Linked DNA regions of Homo sapiens. The protein of the gene in region 1 interacts with the protein of each later gene in a pairwise test. Each region holds a gene or a part of one and is shown on either strand. Other genes may lie near its edges.

Region 1 (7,026 bases):
ACTGGGTTCTGCTTCTCGAGCCACTGTGGACCAGTTAACAGACCTTCCCTCCAAGGAGCAGCTCAGTTGTGTGGTCTTTGCTCTGTGGCCTCCTGCTTTCTCCAGCAACCTCAGTGATCCAGGTGTCAAGGTGGGTACGTTCAGTGATTTGAGAGGCTGCGGCACTCACCCATCCCTACAGATCAGCAACTCCAGTCCTTCCAACTGTGAAAATTGAGATCCCATGCATTTCTGACTAAATCTGTGAGATGATCCATATTAAATTGAGCCATAAACAAATCAGCAGAATTGTTAGGGGGAGCAGGGGGAAGGTTGGGAACCTAGCAAATTTGCCCATGAAGGAAAATGAGATACATTATTTGCTTCCACTCTATAATGTGGCAAAGTTATTTACTCTTTCCCTATTTTCCCATATCTTTCCAGATGTTGGAAGGGCTGAAATATTTGATGTAGTGATAGATCACATGAAAATAAAGGCTGTTGGATTCTTTTTGTTGTTGTTGTTCAGATGGAGTCTTGCTCTGTTGCCCAGGCTGGAGTACAGTGGCACAGTCTCGGCTCTCTGCAACCTCTGCCTCCTGGGTTCAAGCGATTCTCCTGCCTCAGCCTCCCAAGTAGCTGGGATTACAGGTGTCTGCCACCATTCATGGCTAATTTTTGTGTTTTTAGTTGTAGACGGGGTTTCATCATGTTGGCCAGGCTGGTCTCGAACTCCTGACCTCGTGATCTGCCTGCCTCGGCCTCCCAAGGTGCTGGGATTACAGGTGTGAGCCACCATGCCTGGCCTGGATTCTTTTAACATTGTGGTCTACTTGTCTAATGTTAATATTCAAACAAGAAGGAAATTATATTTTTTAAGAATCTTGGGCCGGGCACGGTGGCTCACGCCTATAATCCCAGCACTTTGGGAGGCCGAGGTGGGCGGATCACCTAAGTTCAGGAGTTCAAGATCAACCTGATCAACATGGTGAAACCCCGTCTCTTCTAAAATACAAAAATTAGCCAGGCATGATGGCGGGTGCCTGTAATCCCAGCTACTCAGGAGGCTGAGATGGGAGAATGGCTTGAACCTGGGAGATGGTGGTTGCAGTCAGCGAAGATCGGGCCACTGCACTCCAGCCTGGGCAGCTGAGCAAGACTCCACCTCAAAAAAAAAGAATCGGAAAATCTTAGAAGTGTCCAAAAACTTTTTAACTCATCTACTCAACTGTACATACTATCTAAACTTAATACATAATTCAGATTGCACAATAAGCCAATATATTTTTCTGCCGGGGTTTATCTAAGTGTGTACATTGGTTTTTACCAATGGGAAAGGAGACTATCTTTTCTTGTGATTTCCTTGAAAATCAGTTTTCTCATTATGTTTCTCCGTAATGCGAATAATTTCCAATTGGAGGCAGAATTTGAGATACAAACCACAGGTACCTTAGTAAAGTACCGGTGCTTCGTGGTCATGCAATTTACCAACTTTGCAGATAACAAATGAGATCTTCCCCGTTTGGACATACTCCTACCTGGTGCTGCTGCTGCCTGTGTTTGTCCTCACCGATTATGTCCGCTACAAGCCAGTCATCATCTTGCAAGGTATCAGTTTCATCATTACCTGGCTGCTGCTGTTGTTTGGCCAAGGAGTGAAGACCATGCAGGTTGTAGAGTTCTTCTATGGGATGGTCACCGCCGCCGAGGTGGCCTACTACGCCTACATATACAGCGTGGTCAGCCCCGAGCACTACCAGAGAGTGAGCGGCTACTGCAGGAGCGTCACGCTGGCCGCCTACACAGCAGGGTCGGTGCTGGCTCAACTCTTGGTATCCCTGGCGAACATGTCGTACTTTTACCTCAACGTCATATCCTTGGCCTCTGTCTCCGTGGCTTTCCTTTTCTCACTTTTCCTACCAATGCCCAAGAAAAGCATGTTTTTTCATGCAAAACCCAGCAGAGAAATAAAGAAGTCATCAAGCGTGAATCCAGTATTAGAGGAAACTCACGAAGGTGAAGCACCAGGCTGTGAAGAGCAGAAACCCACATCAGAAATACTCAGCACTTCAGGGAAGCTGAATAAGGGCCAGCTGAACAGCCTGAAACCAAGCAATGTGACTGTGGACGTTTTTGTGCAGTGGTTCCAAGATTTGAAGGAGTGCTACTCCTCAAAACGTCTTTTCTACTGGTCTCTATGGTGGGCTTTCGCCACAGCAGGTTTTAACCAGGTTTTGAACTATGTTCAAATCCTGTGGGATTACAAGGCGCCATCCCAAGATTCTTCCATCTATAATGGGGCCGTAGAAGCTATTGCAACCTTTGGAGGTAAGCAAATGTCACTTAATCTTCCTTTGTTGGCTTTACCCGCTTAAGTCCATTCCTCCAGGTACCGAACTTCATGGCAGCGAATTAGCTCTGTTCAGAAGGAAGCATAACTTTTTTCAGTCAAGAATGAAAGTCACGGCCGGGCATGGTGGCTTATGCCTGTAATCCCAGCACTTTGGGAAGCTGAGACGCGTGGATCACGATTTCAGGAGGTCGAGACCATCCTGGCTAATGCAGTGAAACCCCGTCTCTACTAAAAATACAAAAAATAAAATAGGTAGGCGTGGTGGCGGGCACCTGTAGTCCCAGCACTTTGGGAGGCCGAGGCTGGCGAATCACGAGGACAGGAGATGGAGACCATCCTGGCTAACACGGTGAAACCCCATCTCTACTAAAAATACAAAGAAATTAGCCGGTCATGGTGGCGGATGCCTGTAGTCCCAGCTACTTGGGAGGCTGAGGCAGGAGAATGGCATGAACCTGGGAGGCTGAGCTTGCAGTGAGCCTAGATCGTGCCACTGCACTCCAGCCTGGATGACAGAGCGAGACTCCTCTCAAAAAAATAAAAATAAAAATAAAAAGAATGAAAGTCACTGGAAAAATAAGAATACTGTGACTTTCTATTGTGTTGTAGTTACAAGTAACTTTTTTATTTTTTGAGACAGAGCCTCACTCTGTCACCAAGCTGGAATGCAGTGGTGCGATCTCAGCTCACTGCAACCTCTGCCTCCCAGGTTCAAGCTATTCTCCTGCCTCAGCCTCCTGAGTAGCTGGGACTACAGGCACGTGCCACCATGCCCAGCTAAATTTTTTTGTATTTTTAGTAGAGACGGGGTTTCACCATGTTGCCCAGGATGGTCTCAATCTCTTGACCTCATGATCTACCCGCCTCAGCCTCCAAAAGTGCTGGGATTACAGGCGTGAGCCACCACGCCCAGCCACAAGAAGTAACTCTTAGGAGCTCAGGGATTAGCACCAAACAATGAAATTCTAGTTGAATCCCTAAGATTCCAATTCATCATTAGCACAAAGGTTAATAACATGCCCTGTTCTTTTAGGATTATTTTTAATATCAAAATATATACATATATGTGTATATGTTTTCATTATTTTAGAAAATAAATTAAGGATTCCAAATTCTCACTGAGGGTTTTGTTAATACAGGATTTGAACTAGCTAGCATGCACCTATAACAATTCTAGGCTATACACCAACAACTTTCAAAAGCAGCTTTCTCATGGTATTTAAATGAGGGCTGGAAGAGATGTGAAAGTCAGGATTTTAATATCAGAGGGAAATCTGTCTTTGAAGTTTAATCTACAATAAATGTTTATTTCCTAGTAACTGGAAGCTTAAATGTCAAATGAGACTTTGAAGATATTTTTTAGGAAGTGAGAATTCGCCCCACCCTCATTTACAAAAAGTTTTAGAAAACCCGTGTGACCTCTATTTTATTATTATCTCCCTTTTGGGAAGCTTCAGTTTAACTCCTGGAAACCAGGACTGTGCCAGAATTGCTTCACTGAAATTATTGCTCCTACATTCCAAATCCATGGGGGGAAAAATAGTTATTTTTTTTTTCCTCTGTGGTCATGATCACATGTGGGAAAGTTAGTCATATGTCAATGTAGTAATTTGAAATCTAAATACCTTTTGTTTATTTATTTATTTTAGACAGAGTCTTACTCTGTCACCCAGGCTGGATTGCAGTGGCATGATTTCAGCTCATTGCAAACTCTGCCTCCAGGGTTCAAGTGATTCTCCTGCCTCAGCCTCCTGAGTAGCTGGGATTGCAGGTGCCCGCCACCATGCTGGCTAATTTTTGTATTTTTAGTAGAGCTGGAGTTTCACCATGTTGGCCAGGCTGGTCTCTAACTCCTGACCTCAAGTGATCCACCCCCTTCAGCCTCCCAAAGTGCTGGGATTACAGGAGTGCGCCACTGTCCCCAGCCCTAAATACCTTTTACCTTTGTTAAAGAGAACCACACAAAAGTGCTAACCCTAATTACTGTCAATTATTTCAATTTCTTGAACTCTGTAAGTCTATATAGATATTTTCACCCAAAGCTTCTCAAGTAAATTATGTCAGATGTTGAAGACTTTAGAGTGGAGATTGGAAATAAGACTAAGATTACTAAAGGTTCATAATAAAGACTAAAACTGGGTAGGGCAAGAAAAAAGACTAAAACTTTCAATGTAACACATCTGATACTCATCACTGAAAAAGACTTACAGCAAAAACTGAGAAAAGAAAGGCAAATAGAGAGGCCAGTGTATTCCCAGAGAATTTATTTCATCCTTTTCCATCCCTGCATGTTGTACTGAGTGACTAGGTTAATGTATCATTTCTCCTTACACTGCTGTGGTTAGGAACCTTTCTGGCCCCTCTGCAGAATACAGTGTCTGGCGTGTAGTTGATGCTAATTAAAAGTATGGTGACTAAGTGACCGAAAGAATAGCAAGTGAAAAGAAAAGCCAAAAGAAGACACGCTTGAGAAAAGGATAGATCCACATTCAGGTCGATCACACAATTTTGTGAAAGCAATATATTTATCTTTCAGAATTACCCGAGACCTGGGTTTTTAAGAGAGGGTGTTGATATTTTCCTGCATGCAAAGTCATTATGTTTGATTGCCTTCAATGTTTTTTTTCAGGGGCTGTGGCTGCCTTTGCAGTGGGTTATGTGAAAGTCAACTGGGACCTTCTGGGAGAGCTGGCTCTGGTGGTCTTCTCAGTTGTCAATGCCGGTTCTTTATTTCTCATGCATTACACAGCCAATATCTGGGCGTGCTATGCTGGCTATTTGATATTCAAGTCCAGCTATATGCTTCTTATAACCATAGCAGTGTAAGTTTTACCAACCACTCCTAAAACTGAACTGTATTCCTCTCTCTTCTGTCTTTCTAAACTTTCTCTAAGAACTTCAGAAGGATTTTAGTCAATTGCAATATTAAATGTTGACTGCTTTATATTAAATTAGACACAACTAAGCCAACTTTTCATTTAACTATTTGCTCTCTGAATATTGCTACAATATACCTTAAGTCATCAAGGGAAAAAACTCTGTAGGTTTATAGACCAAAAGCAGTGATACATTGTCAGGTTTTTCTTTTTGTTTTATTTTGTTTGAGAGATGGCCTGGCTCTCTTGCCCAGGCTGGAGAGCAGTGGTGCGATCACGATCAGGACTCAATGCAGCCTTGACTTCCCAGGCTCAGGTGAGTCCCCAACCTCAACCTCCTGAGTAGCTGGGATGACAAGCATGTGCCACCATGCCTAGCTAATTTTTCGTATTTTGTAGAGATGGGGTTTCACCATGTTGCTCAGGCTGGTCCCAAACTCCTGGGCTCAAGCGATCCACCTGCCCTGGCTTCCCAAAGTGCTGGAATTACAGGTGTGAGCCACTACATCTGGCATCATTGTCAGGATTTGATTTGTTTATTTCCAGCAACTTTCTACATAAAGTGTGATGTGATCTGCTTTCAAATGGTTAGGTTTAGATTTCATTCCTACTTTCATTTGTTTGCTTGAGAAATTCTAAGCACATACTTTTATGACACAAAAGATTCTCAGGAAAGTTATTAAAAAGTTGGATACTAAAAAAAGTAGATGCAAAGATAACAAGAAACCTTTAGCTGCAGTCGTGTATGGAACCAAGCAGTTTTTCTTTTCTTTTGTTCTTTTTGAGACAGGGTCTCACCCAGGCAGGAGTGCAGTGGTGCAATCATAGCACACCACAATCTTGATCTCCTGGGCTCAAGCAGTCCTCCCACCTCAGCCTCCTGAGTAGCTGAAACTACTGGTGCACACCACCATGCCTGGCTAAATTTTTAATTTTCATTTTTGTAGAGACAGAGTGTCACTGTGTTCCCCAGGCTGGTCTCAAACTCCTGGGCTCAAGTAATCCTCTGGCCTCAGCTTCCCAAAGTGGTAGGATTACAGGTGTGAGCCACCACGCCAGATCTAGTTTTCAGTCATTTTCTAAAAATAATTTCTGGGATTTAGAATTTCCCGTCATTTTTGCTTCTACTTTTTTCTCAGAGATCTCTTTAAGAAAATGATTAAAAAACCATTCGGTTTCATATAAAAGTACAGCTAAAGCTGACTACAGAAAATATGCTTTGCTATTAACCAAAAAAAATGAGAAACATTTGAATTTCAAATTGCATGAAAGAAGTGGAGACAAAAGCTTCATCAAGTTTTGCTTTCAATTTGTGAAGAATGTTTTATAAACAATTTACAACACAGAAATATGAGCACTCTGGGAAAAAATCATCAAAGGAAAAAACAATTAGTTGGTATGTTTATTTTCTTCATGGAAATGTCTTAATTTAATCAGAATCATGTATCTTAGGTTGCTTTTTTTTAAATGTGAAGATTTTGTTAAAGTAGGATTATATCATTTCTTTGCATTAAAAAAAAATATTCACGGCTGGGCACAGTGGCTCCCGCCTGTAATCCCAGCACTTTGGGAGGCCAAAGCAGGTGGATCACCTGAGGTCAGGAGTTCGAGACCAGCCTGGCCAATATGATTAAACCCCGTATCTACTAAAAATACAAAAATTAGCTGGGCATGGTGGTGAGAACCTGTAATCCCTGCTACTGGGGAGGCTGAGGCAGGAGAATCCCTTGAACCTGGGAGGCAGAGGTTGCACATTCTCATCAGCATTTATTGCTTGTTTTTTGGATAAAAGCCATTCAAATTGAAGTGAGATAATAT
Region 2 (7,026 bases), on another chromosome or scaffold:
CTCTTGTTGCCCAGGCTGGAGTGCAATGGCGCAATCTCAGCTCACTGCAACCTCTGCCCCCCGAGTTCAAGAGATTCTCCTGCCTCAGCTTCCCAAGTAGCTGGGATTACAGGTGCCCGCCACTATGCCCGGCTAATTTTTGTATTTTTAGTAGAGACGAGGTTTCACCATGTTGGCCAGGCTGGTCTCGAACTCCTGATCTCCGGTGATCTGCCCACCTTGGCCTCCCAAAGTGCTGGGATTACAGGTGTGAGCCACTGCACCCAGCTAATTTTTATTTTTTTGAGAGGGAGTCTCTCTCTGTCACCCAGGCTGGAGTGCAGTGGCTCAATCTTGGCTCACTGCAACCTCCGCCTCCCAGGTTCAAGCAATTCTTCTGTCTCAGCCTTCCAGGTAGCTGGGATTACAGGTTTGAGCCACTGCGCCCAGCTAATTTTTATTTTTTTGAGAGGGAGTCTCTCTCTGTCACCCAGGCTGGAGTGCAGTGGCTCAATCTTGGCTCACTGCAACCTCCGCCTCCCAGGTTCAAGCAATTCTTCTGTCTCAGCCTTCCAGGTAGCTGGGATTACAGGTGCATGCCACCATGCTGGGCTAATTTTTGTATTTTTAGTAGAGACGGGGTTTTGCCATGTTGGCGAGGCTGGTCTCGAACTCCTGACCTCAGGTGATCCACCTGCCTGGGCCTCCCAAAGTACTGGGATTACAGGCGTGAGCCACCACCCCCGGCCTTTTTTTTTTTTTGTAATACTAACCATTCTAATGGACGTAAGGTGGTGTCTCATTTTAGTTTTGATTTGCATTTCCCTAATAGTGATGTTGAGTATCTTTTCAGATGCTTATGGCCATCTGTTTATCTTTGGAGACATGTCTAGTCAAATCTTTTGCCCCCTTTTAAAATCCAGTTGTTTTTTGTTGTTGAGTTCCTTTTGTTGTTGTTATTATTATTATTATTATTATTTTTTGAGACAGAGTTTTGCTCTTTTGCCGAGGCTGGAGTGCAGTGGCGCTATCTCGGCTCACTGCAACCTCTGCCTCCTGGGTTCAAGCGATTCTCCTGCCTTAGCCTCCCGAGTAGCTGGGATTACATGCATGCACCACCACACCTAGCTAATTTTTGTATTTTTTTTAGTAGAAAGAGGGTTTCACCATGTTGGCCTGGCTGGTCTCGAACTCCTGACCTAAGGTGATCCACCTGCCTCAGCCTCCCAAAGTGCGGAGATTACAGCTGTGAGCCACCACACCTGGCCGACAATTTTTTTTTTTTTTTTTAACTTTTAAGTTCAGGGATACATGTGCGGGTTTGTTATATAGGTAAACTTGTGTCATGGGTGTTTGTTGTACAGATTATTTCGTCACCCAGTTATTAAGTCTAGTATTCATTAGTTATTTTTCCTGATTGTCTCCCTCCCACCCCCTATCCTCCACCCTCCAAAATAGAAAAATTTGTTTTTAGAGGCCGGGTCTTGCTCTGTGACTCAGGACCTGTGGCCACATCCTGTGCTGCCTCATACAACCTTATGGCCTCTCTAACCTCAACCCAGTTAGCTTTCCTAAACCCATTTCCCTATGATTGTTAACACTTGTTGTTAGCCAGGTTCAGAAGGATAACATAATTATTATCCCAGCAGAGTACACCCACCCTGTAATCGGTAAGAGAGATGTTTGGCCTGGTCACTGGGTTTGTGGTGAGAGTCTGTGAAAAGCTGTAAGGAACGCGCTGGTCTTCAGTAGGGTCAAATGCTGCTCCTTCACCATCGTCAGAGGCTACTTCATCACAGCCTCTCTGATTTGAGGATTCAAGTGGGAAAGACTCATGACAAGCAGCAGAAAGTCGAATTGGGAAAACAGTGCCCTCAGGGATGGGGCCGCGCTCAGGTACTTAGATTATAACCTCCGTTGGGATGTTTCTGAAGCTTTCGTCTTAGCAGAAGTTAGGGAGGCAGCACCCCGATCTCAGCACTCAGTCTAGGCCGCACTGGTCCCCGCACTGGTCTCCCCCCTCCCCCCGCGTGAGGCCTTAGGAGGTCTGAAGTATCAGAAGTCCTTGGGCCAGTTAAGCCTAGCAAGGTCCTGGGAGGCGATCTCAGCTGTCCGCTGCGGTGGGGGTGGGATGCCTGGTAAGGACACCAAGTCCGTGGTGTTGGCGTGGTTGGAATTTTCCTGGGATCGCTCCCTTCTCTTCAAGCTGGTCACGGGGACGCATGGTTGAGAGCGCCTAGTTCATTCAGTAGGTGGTCCAGGACTTTCTTCAGCTATAGAGGGGAACAAAGACGCCTTTGGTGAGCACCGGCTCTGCAGCTCTGCGGGTGCAGGGGAGGTGTACTGCGTAGGTGCCCCAGGACTGGCGGGGGCTGAGGGTCCATGCGAACGGCACTACTACGCAGGCGTCGCAGGACTGGCCCGGGCTCAAGGTCCGTGCAAACTGCATGCACTGCGCAGGTGCTCCAGGACTCGCGCGGGGTCAAAGTCCATGCAAGCCGCACGCACTGCACAGGTGCCCCAGGACTGGCACGGGCTCAGAGTCCACGCATACCGCACACACTGCGCAGGCGCTCCAGGACTGGCGCGGGCTCAGAGTCTATGCAAACCGCATACACTGTGCAGGCGCCCTAGGACTGGCGCTGGCTCAGGGTCCCTGCGAGCTGCACGCACTGCGCAGGCGCCCCAGAGCTGGTGTGGGCTGAGTGGCCACACGAGCCACATGCACTGCGCAGGCGCCAGGAGGCCCTTCCTCTCAATCCGAGCTTTGCAGATGAAGGACTCTGCGTGTGTTGCCTTCTGGGCTTACGGGCCGAGTGCCCTTTGAGATTCAACTTTTTCTAAATTATCCTTCACTTTCTGCTGTAAAGAGTGGCCACCTCCTTTTTCCTCTAGGGGACTGAAGCGAGAGGAGGATATTGCAGGGTTTGCCTCTGTGGTCATCTTCTTAGAGAGCACCCCCTCCGCCCCCACACCCTTTTCCTCAGAGCCGTTGCTTAGTGAGTCCCTGCCATGGACCAGGCTTGGGAATGGTCCCCAAGTATTAGTTTAGGAGGACGACTCTCTGCTTCACAGGACCTACCCCAGAATCCTGTGACTCAGAAGCGCGCTTGTGAAGTGCGCATGTGCGGGCAGGGCCTCCAGTGGGGCTCTCGTGGGGGCAGCAGCCAAGGACTGGGGCTGGTGGCCTGGAGAGCTGCCCGCTTCTCCGCCCTTGCCGGTAGGGTTCCTGGCCGAGAGTGGCATCTGGGGCTGTTCAGGGTCTGGAGCTTCCTGAGTTGGAAGACCCTGTCCTCTGTGTTCAGGGACTCAGGGTGACCTGAGTTGGTGGTTCCTGGGTTTGCCTGCTCTACTGCTGGCAGGGACTAGCACGGGGTGTGCACGTTGTCATGCCATCAATTAATTCAGAGATTCACTTTTGTTCTAAAAATTAATATTTGCATTATTACATTTAGATTCATATTAAATCTTACACTGCATGATTCTAGAACATTTTAACACTTATACGTGGGTCTTGGATTAACATTGATACATATTTGCAAATTTATACTTTAAAACTTTTTTTTTTTTAGAGACAGGGTCTCACTCTGTTGCCAAGGCTGTAGTGTGGTGGTGCCATCATAACTCACAGCAGCCTCAACCTTTCGGGCTCAAGTGATCCCTCCCTCCCCGCCTCAGCCTCCTGAGTAGCTGGGGCCACACGGACCACAGGCGTGCACCACCACACCTGACTAATTTTTAATTTTTTGGTAGAGATTGGGTCTTGCTATGTTGCCCCGCCTGGTCTCGAACTCCTGGGCTCAAACGATCTTCCCGCGTCAGTCTCCGAAAGTGCTGGGATTACTGCACTGCGCCTGGCTCAGACAGTTTTTATTGTGCTTATACATGTAATAGATGTAATTATTTTTTCAAGCACCAGTTGTTTTTGTTAACCTTACAAAGCTGCCTTCAGTTTTCCTGAAGTTCACCCTTCTGCCTTCACTCACCTCCCATTCCTGAGTTGTTTTGTGTATTCCCTATAATGCTAAATAATGTCTTGGAATCTCTTTTTCTTTTTAAAATATGGTTTTAAAAGTCAGATTTATTGAAGTGTAATTTGTATAAGGCGAAATTATCAAAAAGTCCTTAGCAGTGTCTGTAGATTTTCCTTGCTTTTGAAAGATAATTTTGTGATTCATCTAAGAGAATTTGGCCCATTCCTATTTCCTTCTCCAGAGTGGATCAGGCTGGAGTATAGCTCCTTCGGTTATAGTGCTGGGTAGTGGCCAGGGCAGAGGCACCACAAAGAGAGCTGGATTTGAACCCCCTACTCCCTGCGCAAAGGCTGCCAGAAGCTGCGCTGCAGTGAACACGCTGCGCATGAGCCCCTAGACCCCTCCACCCCCCCTACTCCCCACACTCCCCCCCCCCACTTTTGCCTCATCACGCAGGCGCTGGTAGGCGGCATCACTGGGCGGGTCAGAAACCACGCGCATGCGCAGACACCCTCAGGCGACTGGCGGGTCGCGGCTTCCAAGCTCTAAATGGAGAGTTGTCCCTACTGTGCGGCAGGCGGAGGAGACCTGTAAGCTGGAAGGGGGAGGGGGGGGGATCTGATTTATTGTGTGCCAGGCACACTTTAGATACACTATAACATTTCGTCTTTATTAATCTATTTTTAAAATTTCGAAACAAACACAAATGTGCAGAAAAGTTATATACAGTCAATACCGATAACTGATTTTGTTTCCTGAACCATTTGGAAGTTGTCAACCCAAACCCCCTCATTCCGAGATACTTTGGTATTCAAAAGAATCTTGGGGGCCGGGCACAGTGGCTCACGCCTTTAATCCCAGCACTTTGGGAGGCCGAGGCTGGCGGATCGCTTGAGCTCAGGAGTTCACTGGCAACATAGTGAAACCGTGTGTCTACTAAAACTAAAAAAAAATTAGTCGAGTGTGGTGGTGCAGGCCTGTAGTCCCAGATGCTCAGGAGGCTCAGGTGGGAGTATCGCTTGAGCCCAGGAAGTCGAGGTTGCAGTGAGCCGAGATCTAATGCAGGCGTCAAGTACGTTACCACGATCTGATCCTCAGACCCCATGCAGGTTCCCCACGTTTCGCAGTAATGTCCTTAACAGGGAAAGGACCCAGTTCGGAATCATGCATTGCATTTCCCGGCCTCTAGCCTCCTGTCTGGAGGAGTTTCCCAGTCTTCCCTTGACTTTCATGGCTGTCATTTGTGGGTGTCAGAGGCCAGTGATTTCGCAGAAGGGACGCCTACTGGCATGTCTGATACTTGGTAGGGATTTCTGAGAGGCAGTGCTGTGTTCTCATTGTGTCTCATCCGCTGGTGTGGGACTGGGATTTGGGGATGTTCGCTGATCCCTTGGGGTAGGTGCCAGAGGCGCCACTGAGGGATCTGGTCTTGGGGCGCCCGCGCAGTCCTTGGACTAGGCCTTCCCGGCAGATCTGCGGGCGCCACCTGGCGGTCACTGCCGACTCCTCCGTTGCGCTCCAGTCACCTCTCCCATCCCGGTGCCGTGGCCGGGCCGTTCCCTGGAGAGTGGACGGCTGGGGCTGGTGCAGGGAACAGGGGCCTGCGGGGGCTGCGCAGGCGGGCCTCCAGGTCATGCGGGGCCCCTCTGCTCACAGGGACCAGCCAGGCCAGCCTGGGGAGCGTGCTTCTTTGTTTATGTCTGTATTTCTCTGCCTATCTGTGGAAACCACAGATCTCCAATTGAAGCCAACACCACAAGATTCATTCTGCTTCTCTCCGAGACGCCTGCCTGCCTGCCTTCCTTCCTTCCTTCCTCCCTCCCTTCCTCCCTTCTTCCCTTCCTTCCTTCACCAGGTTATGAAAGTGGCTAATTTTTCATATTTTTTGTAGAGACAGGGTTTCACCATGTTGCCAAGGCTGGTCTTGAACTCCTGGGCTCAAGCGATTCACCTGCCTTGGCCTCCCAAAGTGCTGGGATTATTGGCATGAGACACCGAACCTGGCCTTTTTTCTTTTGTCCCCCTTTTTTTTTTGAGACAAGGTCTCACCCTGTCGCCCAGGCTGGAGTCCCATGGCATGATCTCAGCTCACTGTAGCCTTGAACTCCTGTATACAAGAGATCCTCCCACCCCGGCCTCCAGAGTGTTAGGGTTGCAGGCCGAGCCACCATGCCAGGCTGAGGCATCTTTCTAAGTGTCTTTGTTGAAAGTGAGAAGACTGGCTTCCGTTACTCTCAATATGTTTATTTCTGTGATCACCCTTTTGTAATTAATCTCTGGTGTCCACCGCCCACTGTTACCCAAGTGAATGCATGCCTCTCCCCACCTGGGCTCCGACCCTGGCAGGGTTCCTTCTTGTCTTGTATGTCTGTCTCCCTCACCCTACAGACCCTGACTCCTGTGTCAGGCTGCCCTTTCTTGGGGACCCCTGTATCACCATGCCTGGCCCTGATGCCTCTTGCCAGGGTGCCATTCTGTGGGAAGGCCCTCTGCACTGAGCTTGGGCACTGACATTCTGCCCTGGGCCCCTGCCTCACCACTGTTACCCTGCACCTGCACCTTGCTCTGCCCCGTCTAATCTAGGACTGAATTCTTCTGGGAGGGGAGAGGTTACATGTTCCCTGTCACTGGAATAACAGCTCTGGTGATGGAATTGGTTTTCATTTCACAATTGCAATTTTATTTATAGTGAAACAGACAAACATTTGTATTGGAGCAAATTCATGGGCATATCTGTAAAAGGAAAAATATAGTTTGAATAGCAATTTGAATATGAGTTTTTTTTTTTTTTTTTTTTGTGGTCGTTATAGGGAGCCGAAAAAGGCAGCAGAGGCTGGCTGTGTAGGTAGAGGGCAGCTTGCCCAGTTGGCAGAGGTGGGAGTAGGATGTTGGAGGAAGGTGTACCGGTTCTGTCTGGCCAAACCCATGCTGGAGTCACCTCAAAAGCAGTGGCAGGGGAGTTCCCTCAAGGGGCTGCTCCAGACTGCCTGGAGATGGGGCTGGCTTGGATTCCAAAGAAAGAAGCACTAAACGCCAGGGTGATAAGTCCACAGCATTCATGACGGGAACTTAC

What was found. The genes of interacting proteins can lie anywhere in the genome.
Region 2: the proteins of SLC19A3 (region 1) and GET1 interact in binary tests that used the Homo sapiens proteins (3 or more experiments, as listed by UniProt).

Annotation. Positions count from the first base shown.
Region 1 is NC_000002.12:227,694,017-227,701,042, reverse strand, and holds part of SLC19A3 (thiamine transporter 2), read left to right. Parts: coding exon of another isoform or gene 1-130; intron 131-1,478; coding exon 1,479-2,307; intron 2,308-4,961; coding exon 4,962-5,154; intron 5,155-7,026. UniProt on the Homo sapiens protein: Mediates high affinity thiamine uptake, probably via a proton anti-port mechanism. Has no folate transport activity. Mediates H(+)-dependent pyridoxine transport.
Region 2 is NC_000021.9:39,383,313-39,390,338, forward strand, and holds part of GET1 (guided entry of tail-anchored proteins factor 1), read left to right. Parts: intron 1-4,468; exon of another isoform or gene 4,469-4,543; intron 4,544-7,026. UniProt on the Homo sapiens protein: Required for the post-translational delivery of tail-anchored (TA) proteins to the endoplasmic reticulum (ER).